Linked DNA regions of Homo sapiens. The protein of the gene in region 1 purifies or fractionates together with the protein of each later gene. This does not show direct contact. Each region holds a gene or a part of one and is shown on either strand. Other genes may lie near its edges. The genes, in order: WFDC9 and CTSC.

The links.
Region 2: the proteins of WFDC9 (region 1) and CTSC purify together in Homo sapiens (affinity purification with mass spectrometry; 2 studies listed by BioGRID and IntAct, with this or other methods). This does not show direct contact.

What each region holds. Positions count from the first base shown.
Region 1 is NC_000020.11:45,627,916-45,635,519, reverse strand, and holds the start of WFDC9 (protein WFDC9 precursor), read left to right. Parts: upstream 1-4,235; 5' UTR 4,236-4,317; intron 4,318-4,323; exon of another isoform or gene 4,324-4,501; coding exon of another isoform or gene 4,502-4,650; intron 4,651-5,615; coding exon of another isoform or gene 5,616-5,706; exon of another isoform or gene 5,707-5,781; intron 5,782-7,604. Other genes in the region: WFDC10A (WAP four-disulfide core domain protein 10A precursor), read right to left, coding at 4,502-4,650, 5,616-5,706.
Region 2 is NC_000011.10:88,299,171-88,306,806, reverse strand, and holds part of CTSC (dipeptidyl peptidase 1 isoform a preproprotein), read left to right. Parts: intron 1-6,161; coding exon 6,162-6,277; intron 6,278-7,636. UniProt on the Homo sapiens protein: Thiol protease. Has dipeptidylpeptidase activity. Active against a broad range of dipeptide substrates composed of both polar and hydrophobic amino acids. Proline cannot occupy the P1 position and arginine cannot occupy the P2 position of the substrate.

The DNA.
Region 1 (7,604 bases):
AGAGTCTTGCCTCAATGTTGATGGCTGCTGACTGACCAGGGTGGTGGTTACTAAAGTGGCTATGGAAATTTCTTAAAATAAGACAACAATAAAGTTTGCTGCATCAGTTGACTATTTCTTTCATGAAAGATTTCTCTGTAGCATGTGATGTTGTTTGAATTTCTTTCCACGGAAGAATTTCCTTGAAAATTGGAGTCAATCTTCTCAAATCCCGCTACTGCTTTATCATAAGTTTATGTAACATTTTAAATCCTTTGTTGTCATTTCAACAGTCTAATGATACAACTTTCATGGATGAAGAGTTGCTATTTTTTTTTTTTAAGAGACAGGGTCTTGTCTTAACACCCAGGCTAGAGTGCAGTGGCAAGGATCATAGCTCACTGCAGCCTCAAACTCCTGGGTTCAAGTGATCCTCCTGCCCCAGCCTCCCAAGTAGCAAAAATGTTTTCAGCATCCTTACCAGGAGAAGTTTCTAATTCAAGAAGCCACTTTCATTGCTCATCCATAAGAAGCAACTCCTTGACTGGGTGCCATGGCTTATGCCTATAATAATCTCAGCACTTCGGGAGGCCGAGGTAGGAGGGGATCACTTGAGGCCAGGAACTTGAGATCAGCCTGGGGAACTTAGCTAGACCTTGTCTTTCCAAAAAAAAAAAAAAAAAAAAAAAAAAAAAAAAAAAAAGCCAAGGGCAGTAGTGCATGCCTGTAGTTCTAGCTACCAGGGAAGCTGAGGTGGGAGCATAGCTCAAGCCAAGGAGTTCAAGACTGCAGTGAGCTCTGATCATGCCACTGTACTCCAGCCTGGGCAACTGAGTAAGATCCTATCTCTTAAAAAAAAAAGAAGTAACCCTTCATCCATTCAAGTTTTATCATGAGATTCCAGCAATTCAATCACATTTTCAGGCTCAACTTCTAACTCTAGTTCTCTTGCTATTTCTATCACATCTGCAGTGGGCTCCTCTATGAAGTCTTGAAACTCTCAAAGTCAGCCATGAGAGTTGGAATCAATTTCTTCCAAACTCCTGTTAGTGATGATATTTTCACCTCCTCCTGTCGATCATGAATGTTCTTAATGGCATCTAGAATGGTGAATCATTTCCAGAAGGTTTTCAATTTATTTTGCCCAGATCCATCAGAAGAATCACTATCTATGTCACCTATAGCCTTATAAGATGTATTTCTTAAACAATGAGACTTGAAAGTCAAGATCACTTCTTGAGCCATGGGCTGTAGAATGTATATTGTGTTAGCAGGCATGAAAACAATATTAATCTCCTTGTACATCTCCATTGGAGCTCTTGGGTGACCAGGCACGTTGTCAATGGGAGTAGTATTTTGAATGAGTATTTTTTATTTGAGCAGTAGGTGTCTAGGTGTCAAAAGTAGACTCAAAATGTGTCTAGGTGTGAAAAGTAGACTCAAAATATTCAGTGAACCATGCTGTAAATAGATGTGCTATCATCAAGATGGTGTCTTATTTATAGGCATAGTAGATTTAGCAGAATTCTGAAGGGACTTGGAATTTTCAGAATGGTAAATGATCATCATTACCTTTAACTTAAAGTCACCAGCTGCATTAGCCCCTAACAAGAGAGTCAGCCTATCCTTTCAAGTTTCGAAGCCAGGCATTGACTTTTGCTCTCTAGTTATGAAAGTCTTAGATGGCATCTTCTTCCTACAGAAGGCTTATTTTTCCACACTGAAGATCTATTGTTTAATTTAGACATCTTCATCACTTTGCAAGATCTTCTGGGTAACTTGCTGCAACTTCTACCTTAGCACTTGCTGCTTCACTTTGCACTTTTATATTACGGAGATGGCTTCTTTCTTTAAACCTCATGAAATAATTTCTGCTAACTTCCAACTTTTCTTCTGCAGCTTTCTCACCTCTTTCAGCCTTCATAATATTGGAGGGAGCTAGAGCCTTTCTCTGGTTAGGTTTTTGGCTTAAGGGAATGTGGTGGCTAGTTTGATCTTCTGCCCAGACCACTAAAATTTTCTCCATATCAGCAATAAGGTTGTTTTGCTTTCTTATCATCCATGTGTTCACTAGAGTAGCACTTTTAATTTCCCTCAACAACTTTTCCTTTGCATTCATATCTTGGCTAACTGGCACAAGAGGCCTAGCTTTTGGCATATCTTTGCTGTTGACATGCCTTCCTAACTGTAATCATTTCCAGCTTTTCATTTAAAGTGAGAGACATAGAACCCTTCCTATCACTTGAACACGTAGAGACCATTGTGGAGTTATTAATTGGCCTAATTTTAATATTGTTATGTCTCAGGAAATAGAGAGGCCTGAGGAGAGGGAGAGAGATGGGGAAATGGCCAGTTGTTGGAGCAGTCAGAACACACACACAACATTTATCCATTAATCATTTTTTAGGGGCGCAGTTCATAGTGTCCCAAAACAATTACAACAGTAATAACCAAGATTATGGATGACAGATCATCACAACAGATATGATAATAAAACAAGTTTGAAATTTTTTTTTTGAGATGGAGTTTCGCTCTTGTTGCCCAGGCTGCAGTGCTATGGCAAGATCTCAGCTCACTGCAACCTTCACCTCCCAGGTTCAAGCGATTCTCTTGCCTCAGTCTCCCAAGTAACTGGGATTACAGGCATGCGCCACCACACTCAGCTAATTTTGTATTTTTATTAAAGACGGAGTTTCACCATGTTGGTCAGGCTGGTCTCGAACTCCTGACCTCAGGTGATTCACCTGCCTTGGCCTCCCGAGTGCTGAGATTGCAGGCATGAGCCACTGCGCCTAGCAAGTTTGAAATATTTTGAGAATTACCAAAATGTGACACAGAGACATGAAGTAAGCACATGCTGTTAGAAAAATGGTGCCAGATGACTTGCTCGATGCAGAGTTGCCACAAACCTTCAATTTGTATGAAACGCTATAGCTGTGAAGTGCAATAGAGCAAGGCTCAATAAAACAAGATATGCCTGTAGTGTCTAGTAGGCATGTTTGGGGGTGGCTTGAGAGGATGCTTGGTAAGGGAGGCTATCCAAGGAAACACCAAATAAGGTCTCTTGGAGATCATGCCCTTACAGCCCACAGAGTACATCTGATGGTGTCTGTGTTGATGGTTGATCATGATCTCTTTCCTAAGACCTCCTTGTCCAAGGGAAGCTCTTGAGAAAGGTGAAGACAAGCCTGAGATACCCAGAGCCCGGTGATGCCTCAGAGGTGGCTCACAGCCTCTGGTCTGATGAAGGAAGTTTTCTTCTCTGATGTCTCTTTCATTGAATGGCCCAGCAAGAAGCACTAGACTGGAGCATAACACTGCACACCTGCCTCTGGGCATGGCCTATCCTCCTGAAACCTCTTCACATTTGGCTTCATGTCCCAGTTAGCTACATGTGACCCAACCCTGGATCTAGCCCCAGGATCATTTCAGAGGAGTTGCGATTGCAGAGTGGGAGATTCTGTACCACACTGATTAATTTCCACCAACTCACAGTAGGATGACAGGGAAGACCCATAGCCACTCTGTGCCAATTACTCCTTAGCAACAGCAGCATGAACCACCTGTTCCACATCCCTTAGTGTTCCTCTTGATCTAAAGAAAAGAGAATGAACCAGCCCCTAAGGAAGAGGGCTTGGGAAAGATAAGGACTATTCAGTTAATGGAAGGTGCTGGAGTGTCAGATCCTGAGGCCCAAAATGGGTCCCATCAGAGGAGTAGCCATATTGGTGGGTGCTGGATAGGAGGAGCTTTGGGGTTGGTGCAGGCACTCACTCTCACTAGGATGCCTCTGGTCTCAGGTAATGGAGAGAAGTGAGGAAAAAGTGATCCTAGAGGAAACACCCTCTTCCAGTCACATCATATCCTCTCACTCTCTTGTGGCCTTGGGCTTGCTGGACTTCCTGGGACTCATTATCCTAATGATAGACAGTAATCTGAACCTTACAGAGAGATTGGGGAGCATAGGATGGCGGTGCACCAAGGCTAAGGAGACCAAAGCAGTGCTTGGGGGCCTCCCACTCTTTATCTCGGGTTCTAACTGCCACCCATCTCATGCTTAATGGGTCCTTCTGACTCCAGGGTGAGAAATGTTCTCCTTAGCATCAGGAGATGCTGCACATGAGCAGTTCCTCCCCCTGGGAGTACTGGTTCAGTGAGCAAAACAGCAAGGGGCTGGGCATCCTGAGGGCTGGCAGGGATACGTGGGCCAAAGAGGGAGAGGGAGGGTAGAGAAGCATAGCCAGGGAGAGAAATTGAACACCAGGACGCAAGACAAGTGGGGCATCTGTAGGGGCCACAGTGAGCTCTCAATGATCATCTGTAGTGGCAGCAAAAGAGGTAGGATCCCTGGGCATTTGTTCTGGTTTATTTGACAGGGACAAGGGGTTCAGACAGTAGAGAGGGCGGCATTCCTGTTGATGTTCTTATGCTGGTGACTTGAGGTCCTTGTGCTTCGGATGTGGGCACAGTCTTGGATAGAGGAGTTGGGAAGCAGGATGCACATCCCAGCCCACTCTCCCACTCACAGGATGCTCATGCAAACATTCCCACAGTAGGTAGAACAGCATATGTTATTTGCTTGACAATCTCGGTGAGATTCACATAAGTGTTTGCATAGATATAGTTTAGGCTGCTGCTGGCAGACTTTGATTTCTGGGGATAGCTGTGTTTCTGACAAGGAGAATAGAACGGTAAATAAACGCAGTTTCCTAGAGAACATTTTTCTCAAGCTGAAGCCTCCTCCAAGACCCTTGAACCCAGGTCTCAGTCATGATACTCCTGGATTCCTTCTTCATAGAACTACCTTCCTGCCCATCACCAAATCCTAGTGATTGGTCATATTTTAAATCCTGTCTCTCCACTGTACACCTTACCCCATTAGACCACAATGCCTGGGCTTCCTGGACCTTCTCCACACACCAGCAATCAGAACTCCATCTCCCTTACTAGTCATGGCCTTGGTGAAGTCACCACCAAAGAATCTACAGTCTGATCCTGAGAGCTCAAAGAAGCATGAGACATCTTTCAAACTCTCTCCTAGTCTCTGAATAGTAGAATTCAGAGATGAGGATCAACATGCCTCTTGTCTCTCCCTCTCTTCTGCTCACTGTCACTGTCTCTAGTCTTCCTGCCCCTTCTTTAGTTCCCTTTCCACCACCACTCTCCTTGCCCCTTTGATGATAACCTTAACTTGGCTCTGTGTACCCCAACTTTTGCTTGTCTTATGTCCTATTTCCCTACACTTATACCCATTCTACACCTACACCTACCGTCATAACCACTTCTGAATCTTTACTCCTCACAAATGTGCATAAATCAAATAATAATTGTCTTGCTTTCCCCACTGGATTCTCAGCCCTGGTGCGCCTTTCACTATGGGATGTGCCATTTCTCTCTAAGTATTGAGAAGGAACAGCAAAATATGCAGGTTTCTTCTTCATTCCCATTACTATTCCCAGGGCCAGCTAAGGGGCTGGAGGGCCATGGTTTAGGGACAGTCCAGAGTCTACACAACATTGTGGTCAGAGCTGGATATGCAGAGAGTTTCCAACTCCTAGGTCCTACTCAGACTGGACACAGGCCCTCCATTCCCCCTACCCAATTCCCCCTCACCCATCCAGCAGCCCATCACCTACTCTGCATCCTCTTCTTGTCACGGTATCCTCCCTGGGCCTGCAGCAGCAGCACACAGAGAACCAGGACAGGCAGCAGAGTCTGGGGTGCCATGACTCTGATCAGATCGTGAGCCCTATGTCTGGCCAGGTTGTCACAGACTTCCCTGCAGAGCTGTCTACGGAGAGTGAAGGAAGGAAAGAAGGAATGATCTTTAGCTCCTCACTGCCTCTACTGGCCAAGTCGGAGCAGAGCAAGAGAGTCCTTCCTCTTTTTGCTTGCCCCTGGCCTTGTCGTTCGTCATGTGGGATAGGGCTTCCGCAGGAATGACGCCTCCTCCTTTCACATAACCAGTCTTGTGTTCTTGCCGATAGAATGAAAGATATCATTTATTTCTGCTTTCTAATTACAAAATGTTTTATGGAAAAAAGAAAAGAAAAAATATATTGTTAAAAAGAGTTGCTTAGAATTAACTGATGTTTCATTGCATTATCTTTTAGTTTCTCTCCATATTTAATATAAACAATCCTTTTAATATAAACAACTTTTGTTATCTATTTTTGCCACCCTTATTTAATCATGTAAGTATTTCTCAAAATGTGGATTTTCATAATTGCACAGCTCTCAAATGCTAATAATCAAGTATTTGTATTGTACTAATTACTAATAATCTAGAGAATGTCATATTATTTTTATTTATAAATCTTTGATTTCTTTAGACTAAGAGAGCTAGAATTCCTGAGTGAAAGAGTAAGTAGCTGTTTCATATATAAATGTATATAAACACATACACAGATATACATATACAAATTTAAACACACATAAACACACAGAAAGAGAGACTATTGTAGGGCATGGGACAGAAGGGCTAGTGGAGAAACATAGTAAATATCTTAGAGCTCAGACAGGGGGAGAGACCTATCAGTCAAAGGCTTGGCAGGCTGTCCAGGAGGAGGTGGTCACTGACCTTGAATATCATGAAGGAAATGAACTCTCAGAAGTGAAGATGTTTCTTCTTCCCTAACAGGAGAAAGAGGGGACAACCTAGGGTCACTGGACTCCCAGTAGGCATGCAAGCTGGGAAGAAGATCACCCTCTTCCTCTGATGATGATAATCTTCTAAAGATTTGAACCTCTTTCTGACATTCTGAACTCCTAATGCAGACTCCTTCAGTCCACAGTTGTAATTTACATTCAAAGGAAGCTCTCTAGCCTTTCCCCCATATCTCACCTTATGCACCTTCCTCTGTATCCTTTGCGATATCCTTTATAATTCAAAAATTCTGATATTTGTACCTATAGTTTACAGAGTGGTATTTGACCCTTCCCAAAGGCTCTCTCTTTCCTAGTTTTTCTTTTTGTCCACTCATAAATGAACAATTTAGAGACTGGACACTGTCATAACTATCCTAGCAAAGAGGGGTTATATAGAGGAGAATCATCATCTCAAATAGAAGCTGCATTTTCCTTACCCAAGCATCTTGCAGCCAGTGCCACAATGTAAATATTTTGGCTAACAGACTTGTCACTACTAGGTCAAGACCCTAAGAAGATGGCAAGTCTCTTTCACACTCTTTTTCTTTTCCACCAGCTCAGTATAGATGACAACAAGGTTCTAGAGCCTAGTGAAGCCAAAAGGTGAAAGGAGCCTGGGTCCTTGACTTCTTTTATCACATGAAAAAAGGATACCCATTGTTTTAGAATACTCATTTTGAATTATTATTTGAGCAAGAAATAAAAAGTATATTGTATTTCAGTTATTATGTGATGGAGGCTTTCTGTTAAAGCAGTCTAGTCAACATTGTGGCAGGCTCAAGTACTGACATTTATAAGGGGAAAGATTTATGGGTATATAGAAGGTCTATACTTTATACATTCAAATTATTGATAGAGTAGTAAATTTAGTAAAGAGATGGGTAATTTGAACATTATGATTAATAAGCTTGACTTAATTAAAATATACAGAAGTCTGCATAGAAAAACTAGAGGAACACATTTTTCTCAAGCACAAA
Region 2 (7,636 bases), on another chromosome or scaffold:
ATTAGACCCCATGCCTTATTGCAAGGGCAGGGGTCCAATGTGACAGCCTAAGTTCTTGCTCAGTGTACCAGAAGAATTGGATCACACGTGGGCTGGAAGGATGAGCACAAGGTTTTATTGAGTGGTGGAGGTGGCTCTCCGCGAGACGACTCTCAGCCAGAGAAGGAGGATGGAGGGGAAAGGTGTTCTTCCCCTGGAGTCCACTTGTTCCTGTTCTCCTCTGGGTTCAAATACCTCTTCCCTCCTTTTCTGCTGTGCTGTCCCACCACTCTCCACAGCTCTGTGCCGCTCTGTTCCTCTGCTCCTCTGGATGTTCAGCTCCTTGTATCTGTGCCTGCTAAGATTTTGGGTTTATATGGGGGAAGGATGGGGGGCATGGCGGGCCAAAAGGCACCTTTTTTGGTGTGAAAACAGAAATGCCTGTCTTCTCTTAGGGCCTTAGGTCTTCAGGCTTGAGGGTGGGGCCTTTGCTGAGGGACCACCCTCTTCTACCCAGTATTTCCCTGTCTCCTGTCCATATCAACATTACTAACTTTTTCATCTGCAGACTAATAATGCTAAGGTGTGGCATTTTTCAACTGTGAGACTATGTGAAGGTTTTTCCTGTCCAACTGATGGCATCCTCCCATAATTCTACCCCTTTCTTAAAAGAATCTTTTGCAGTATTTCTCCAAGTTTATTCTAGAGAATTTCTTGTCTGTGAAATGCTCTAGTTAATCAAAATTGGAAAACGGAGCATATCATATCCCCTTCTCAAATTCACCAAAGTGAAGTCCTAATGTGTCTTAATGTATCTGCATGAGACAGGAAGCTGAGATCTATTCAACAACAAAAATCCAAACAAGCATCAAGAGGAGGAGTGTTAGCACTTGAGCCTAGGGAGACTGTGGCTCCTGCCTGAAAGATGGGAGCCTCAGTCACAGCTGCTTTACCAAGTGTCATATGCTATGTTTCTGAGGACTCCTGCTAAAGCTCCCTTCTCCCTCCAGCCAACCACTTTTGTTTTAGACAAGGGCTGGGTTTATGAAGGACTGTTTTCATGACTAAAGCTTTATAGAAGGTTTAAGATAAGGAGATGGAATTGAGTGAAGTAGGAAATATGAAAGCAGATATTATAATCTGGCTTCCTGATTTTTCACTAGCATTTTTGTTTATAAATTAGTTCTGTTCTAAGAATCCAATGACGTAATAGAAACTCTCAAAGATTCTTAACTTGAGATATAGGGAGTCTTTGAAACTGCTGAAATTACAGACAGCATTTATTGTTTATGAGCATTTCTGAATCTAGAGCTTTCACTAGATTTGTAAAGAATGTGGGCCAAAAGATTAAGAGCCAATCCTGTATCTTGTACTCAAAATGTTTGTAATTCTCACCTTTTTATCCCCCAGACTCCTCTTGCTCTCTCTTCATTTTCACAGTGTTACTGGAAAGGGGTCCTGATCCAGACCCCAAGAGAGGGCTCTTGGATCTTGTGCAAGAAAGAATTTAGGGCGAGTCCTCAATGCAAAGTGAAAGCAAGTTTATTAAGAAAGTAAAGGAATAAAAGAATGGCTACTCCATAGACAGAGCAGCCCTGAGGGCAGCTGGTTGTCCATTTTTATGGTTATTTCTTGATTGTATGCTAAACAAGGGATGGATTATTCATGCCTCCCCTTTTTAGACCATAGAGGGTAACTTCCTGACATTGTCATGGCATTCTTTTTTTTTTTTGACAGAGTCTCACTGTGTTGTCCAGGCTGGAGTGCGGTAAAGCAATCTTGGCTCACTGCAACCTCTGCCTCCTGGGTTTAAATGATTCTCCTGCCTCAGCCTCCCAAGTAGCTGGGATTACAGGCATGACCCACCATGCCCAGCCAATTTTTGTATTTTTAGTTGAAACAGGGTTTTGCCATGTTGGCCAGGCTGGTCTTGAACTCCTGACTTCAGGTGATCTGCCTACCTTGGCCTCCCAAAGTGCTGCAATTACAGATGTGAGCCACCAAACCTGGCCTGTCATGGCATTCTTAAACTGTCATGGTGCTGGTGGGAGTGTAGCAGTGAGGAAGACCAGAGGTCACTCTCATCGCCATCTTGGTTTTGGTGGGTTTTAGCTGGCTTCTTTACTGCAGCCTGTCTGTTCTATCAGCAAGGTCTTTATGACCTGAATCTTGTGCTGACCTCCTATCTCATTCTATGACTTAGAATGCCTTAACTGTCTGGGAATGCAGCCCAGTAGGTCTCAGCCTCATCTTACCCAGCTCCTATTCAAGATGGAGTTGCTCTGGGTCAAACACCTTTGACAACATCATTAAGCCTCAGTTCTCACACTGTTTTTGTTTTGTTTGTGTGTGCAATGATGGGCAAATCTCTGCCTTATAGGATGGTAGAAAAAAGGAACTTAATATTGTAATGACTGTTTTGTGCCAGATAATTGCTTTAAACTGTATCAGCATCTTATTTAGTCCTGTTAATGATATGAATGTTATCTTCATAACAGCTGCCATTTTATTAAGGACTTATCAGAGAAAAACACTGTTCTAAGCACTTGTTACCCATTATTACATTGAATTTTCATAACAACCCTTTGAGGTAAGCATGATTATACCCACTTTAATAGAAGTGAACTGTAGTTTTGTAATGTTAGGTTCCTTGCCAAATGTTACACAGATAGTAAGTGATAAAATCATATGCCCTGAAATTACATTATGCTGCCAAACTTAAATTTCTTTTTTATCCTTTATATTAGTATATTCTTAGGTTTAAACAAGACAACTAGTTAACACATACTAGATTTTGTCCACAGTTCCTGGCTCATAACTCCCATAGCCCTTGTCACTATCTTTTAACGTTGGGGCACATTAGGCCTCAGAAGTAGGCCTCAGAAAACAGAGTCTCTCTCTCTCTCTCTCTCTGATCTTCTTCCGCCCTCCTCTCACCTGCCCAGGGCAGCACTCTAATCTTCTCCTGCCTTTCTGATCTTGGGTCATAAGACCTTCATTTCCAAAGATGTCCTGTGTCATACCCTAAAGGAAGGAACACTGAACAGAGAGAGGCTCAGAAGAATCTGGACAGGCCTTGCTGTGTTTACATCATTCCCTTTATGTCCAGTCACATCTCTACATGGTTGTCAGTTGTGCCTATTTGATGAAGTCCCCATATAAGGCTCACAAGGACAGGGTGCAGAGAGCTTCCAGATAGCTGAACAAGTGGAAGTTCCTGGAGGGTGGCGTGTTCAGGGAGGGCATGGAAGCTGTGTGCCCCTTCCCCCATACCTTGCCCTACTCATTTCTTCATCTGTTTCATTTGTAGTATCTTTTATAATAAACCACTAAACATTAGTTAGTATTTCTCTGAGTTCTGTGAGTCACTCTAGCAAATTAATTGAACCCAAGGAGGGTGTCATAGGATCCCCACATTATAGCTGGTTGGCCAGAAGCACAGGTAAACAACCTAGGGCTTTCAATTGGCATGAGAAGTAGGGGGCAGTTTTGTGGGACGGAGCCCTCAGCCTGTGAGATCTGATGCCATCTCTAAGTACACAGTGTCAAAACTGGATTGGAGGACACCCAGCTAGTATTCACTGTGAAATTGGTTGCTTGCTTGATTTGTGGGGAAAAACCCACATGCATTTGATCACAGAAGTCTTTTGTGTTGACAGTTGATAGTGTTCAGTGAGAGAATTAAAAAAAAATTGAGTTTCTTCTTCAACATACTCTCTCAATGTGAAACCACAGAAACTATTTCCATTCAAAGATGGAAATGGTTTGTTTGCATCTTAGTTTTTATTTATACATCTTAGAAGAAATGTCCAAGCTTTGTTTTTTCTCTCACCCTATATATAAAATTACCTATGAGGCACAGATTTTTATGATCCTTGATTATATAGACTTTGTCCAAATTGTGTGTTTTATAGCATTACTGTAACTTGTTATAGTAATCTTTGTGTATATTATGTCTCTTAACATTGTCTTCCATATTGTTAATGACCATCTCATATTTATCTCTGTATCATGTATATCTTCAACCAATGTGACTGGCTTAGGAGAAAAAATTAGTGAACAATTAACTAGTGTTTGTGTAATCTATACAATTGTCAAGGTTACAATTGCTATTTTTGAAGAAATCGTTGTTGTTTTTCTCTTTGTTTCATCTCAGTTCCATTTTGTCATGTATTCTTTTTTTTTTTTTTTTTTTTTTTTTTGAGGCGGAGTCTTGCTCTGTCACCCGGGCTGGAGTGCAGTGGTGCAATCTCGGCTCACTGCAAGCTCCACCTCCTGGGTTCATGCCATTCTCCTGCCTCAGCCTCCCGAGTAGCTGGGACTACAGGCACCCGCCACCACGCCCAGCTAATTTTTTTTTGTATTTTTAGTAGGGACGGGGTTTCACTGTGTTAGCCAGGATGGTCTCAATCTCCTGACCTCGTGATCCGCCCGCCTCGGCCTCCCAATGCTGGGATTACAGGCGTGAGCCACCGCGCCTGGCCCCTTGTCATGTATTCTTAACCTGTGTTATATCTAAGAGAAGCTGTGAGAGACGGGACCATTTGTGGATAGGTGCAGAGGGCATGAAGTAGCCCAGAAAGAATCTTTGCCATTGACTAAATTTTAGCCTAGTAAAAAACATCTGGTAACCACTGAAAAACTAGAACAGTGTGATATGACAATGCCCAGTTGAATAAGAAATTCAAATAGTTTATAGTAACAAAAAATAATTTTTACCACATTGTGACTAGTGCCCTAAAAACAAATTTGAAGGAGCAGAGAGAGAGAGGAAGTGAGTTTTCGCTGGGGGCTGGTGAGTGGAGGCTACTTTATGAGCAGTTTTGAAAATTACAAGTTAGGGAAAAACTCTTAGGGGAGTTTTAAGTGGTGAGCAACAGGCACTTGAGGTTACAGGAGCAGCAGCATAAAGATATAGAACAGAGAGGCCATTTGGCAGTCTTGGGGAAACTCCAAGAAGTCGAATGTGTCTAAAGCTGTGGTTCTCTCTCTGTGTGTGTGTGTGTGTGTGTGTGTGCGCGCGTGTGTTTGTGTGTGTGTGCATGTGTATGTATGTGTGAAATCGCTAATACAGAGAAGCTGTTAGAACAATTTTCTCACTTCCCAAAAATGTCCGTTCATTCATGGGCCTAGGCAACTCTCCTTTGTGTGTCTTACAGCCCAACACTGTCATATAAGGTGTGGTTCTATAATGAAACAGTTTTATCTGTTGTTTACGGAGCTAGTCAGCCTGTGTTATGCTTGTTACTGGTTGAGGGTGTCCAGGTTCTTGGCTTCTTGAACAAAGAATTGGACAAAACTCACAAATGAGGCAAGGAAAGAATGAAGCAACAAAAGCGGAGATTTATTGAAAATGAAAGCACACTCCACAGGATGGGAGTGGGCCTAAGTAAATGATTCAAGGCCCTGGTTACAGAATTTTCTGGGGTTTCAATACCGTCTAGAGGTTTCCCATTGGTTACCTGGTGTATGCCTTATGTAAATGAAGAGGGTGGAGTTAAGTTACAAAGTCATTTACTCAGTATAGGCCTTGTGTTAATGGAGAGGGTGTTACTCCTGGGGGTTGTGGCCCATGTAAACGGAGAGGATGAAGTGAAGTGACAAAGCCCTTCGCATTCCTGCCATTGCTGAAGTGTTTCCACTTTATTTAGTTCTAGGAAGTCAGTGTGAATTGGCCTTATGTTCCCTGCCTCCAGAACCTGTTCTCCTGCCTCACATAGACCCTTTTTTCCCTTTGCCAACTTCACTTCTTTTACAGCCACCTCACTACCAATGTGTCTGTCTCCTAAGTCAAACATCAGTGATTCCTCTGTTTTCTCTAAACCCTTCTTATGTCTTCTACTTCTCATCTCTTTCTTGGTCAAAAATCTTTCAAAAATGAGTAAGAATGCAGCTATTCAGGCAAACTAAAAATAACATCACAGTGATATACAAAACCAGTGTCATTTCACAAAGGAAAATTATCAATACTAGATCCTGAAAAAGAAACAGCGAATGAAAGCCATTTACACAACTCCATTGTGTAATTGACACATTGAATCACTCATAAAACAGGTGCTCTGGGTCTGAATCTAGATCCTAGCTAGTCTGGTAGCTGAAATCATAGAATTATAGTAGAGTTTAGGAAATCATCCTCAAAGGAAAGATTATATGTTGATATCAAATGTATATTTCCTTTCTAGGCCCAAACCTGCACCACTGACTGCTGAAATACAGCAAAAGATTTTGCATTTGCCAACATCTTGGGACTGGAGAAATGTTCATGGTATCAATTTTGTCAGTCCTGTTCGAAACCAAGGTAAAAAAATAAGCCTAAGTTTTTTGTTAATTTGTTTGGAACTATTTATTGAACAGTTGCTCTGTGTGATGGATTTCGGGGATACCTAGATGGAATGGGCATGATCCCCTTTTTACAGAAATAGAAAATAGGTGGCCTATGAATTATTCTTTCCTTTTATATCCATGACAAACTTTAGTAAAAAATTTTCTTTTCTACTGAGCTTAGCATTTATTCAGTACTCTTCTCAATATATTTTCCAGGTAGCTAGTGACAATCAGAGTGATATGTAAGACAAACTCATTTGTCCTCCTAGTAGGAAAGATTCTAGTAGAAGCAAAGAATTGTGTACCATTCTGCAAGTGGTTTGTTGGAATCTTTCTTTGATACCTGTTCCTGTATTCCCCCACCCCCATTAATTTAGTCATTAATTACTACATGAACCCGTAAAATAAATCCTTAAATTATTTTCCTGGTAGATTTTTTGAGCTGTGTAAGGACCTTTCAATTCACTTTACATTAGAATACGATATGTGATGGTAAGTATTAACCCAGCTTCCTGAGTGATGGCGTGAGGGCGGAACCCAGGTTCATGAAAAGTATTCCTATTATTGAATTTTACCAGTTATTTTCAGAAGTTTGATACAATGTGAGTTGATTTCATAACATGTCCTCTAACTGCACTTGATAGCAAATTATCTTGTTATCCTGAGTTGTAGCCAACAATGACTTGGAGAATCTATGCAATACTCAGTTTTATTACTTCTAAGCTCATTTTGAAGATAATACTACCCATGGCTGATTTGTTACTATAAAATAGGTTTAGTATTTGCTGTCTGGAAACATTCTGATTAGTGTCTCCTGGGAGGATTATAAATTTATAGTACCCAAAGATAAACTGTTGTTTCCCTTTCCTAAACTTTTAGTGATAATCAGTCTCTGCCGTGTCTCATTTTCATCACTTGCCCTCCAAGCTCCCATCTCACTGAATTCTTGCAGTGTTCTGAATGTTGAGAGCCCCAAGTGGGTCTTATAACAGCCAGTCAGCAACATTTCTGTTTTTCATCTGACACCAAGGGTCTCGTCTCTTTGCTTTTCTACCAGTTATTCTGGGCTCTTCAGCTCTAAAGAAAGTATAGGTCCTGAAATCTTTCCCTACCTTCTCAATTTCCTGGGGAGGGCTTCTTTGGAAAGTGGGATTGGAAATAAGATAAATTTGAAGATAATTGAGAAATGAATGGAAAGTGAAATTGAAGGGTCCATGTTAAGAGATTGCAAGTTATGCTATCACCAAATAGATTTTTTGTGCCTGAGAGGATTAATTCATAGTGCATATTATGTGTTGACTTTATCATTGAGGTCCTGGCACATGATAGCATT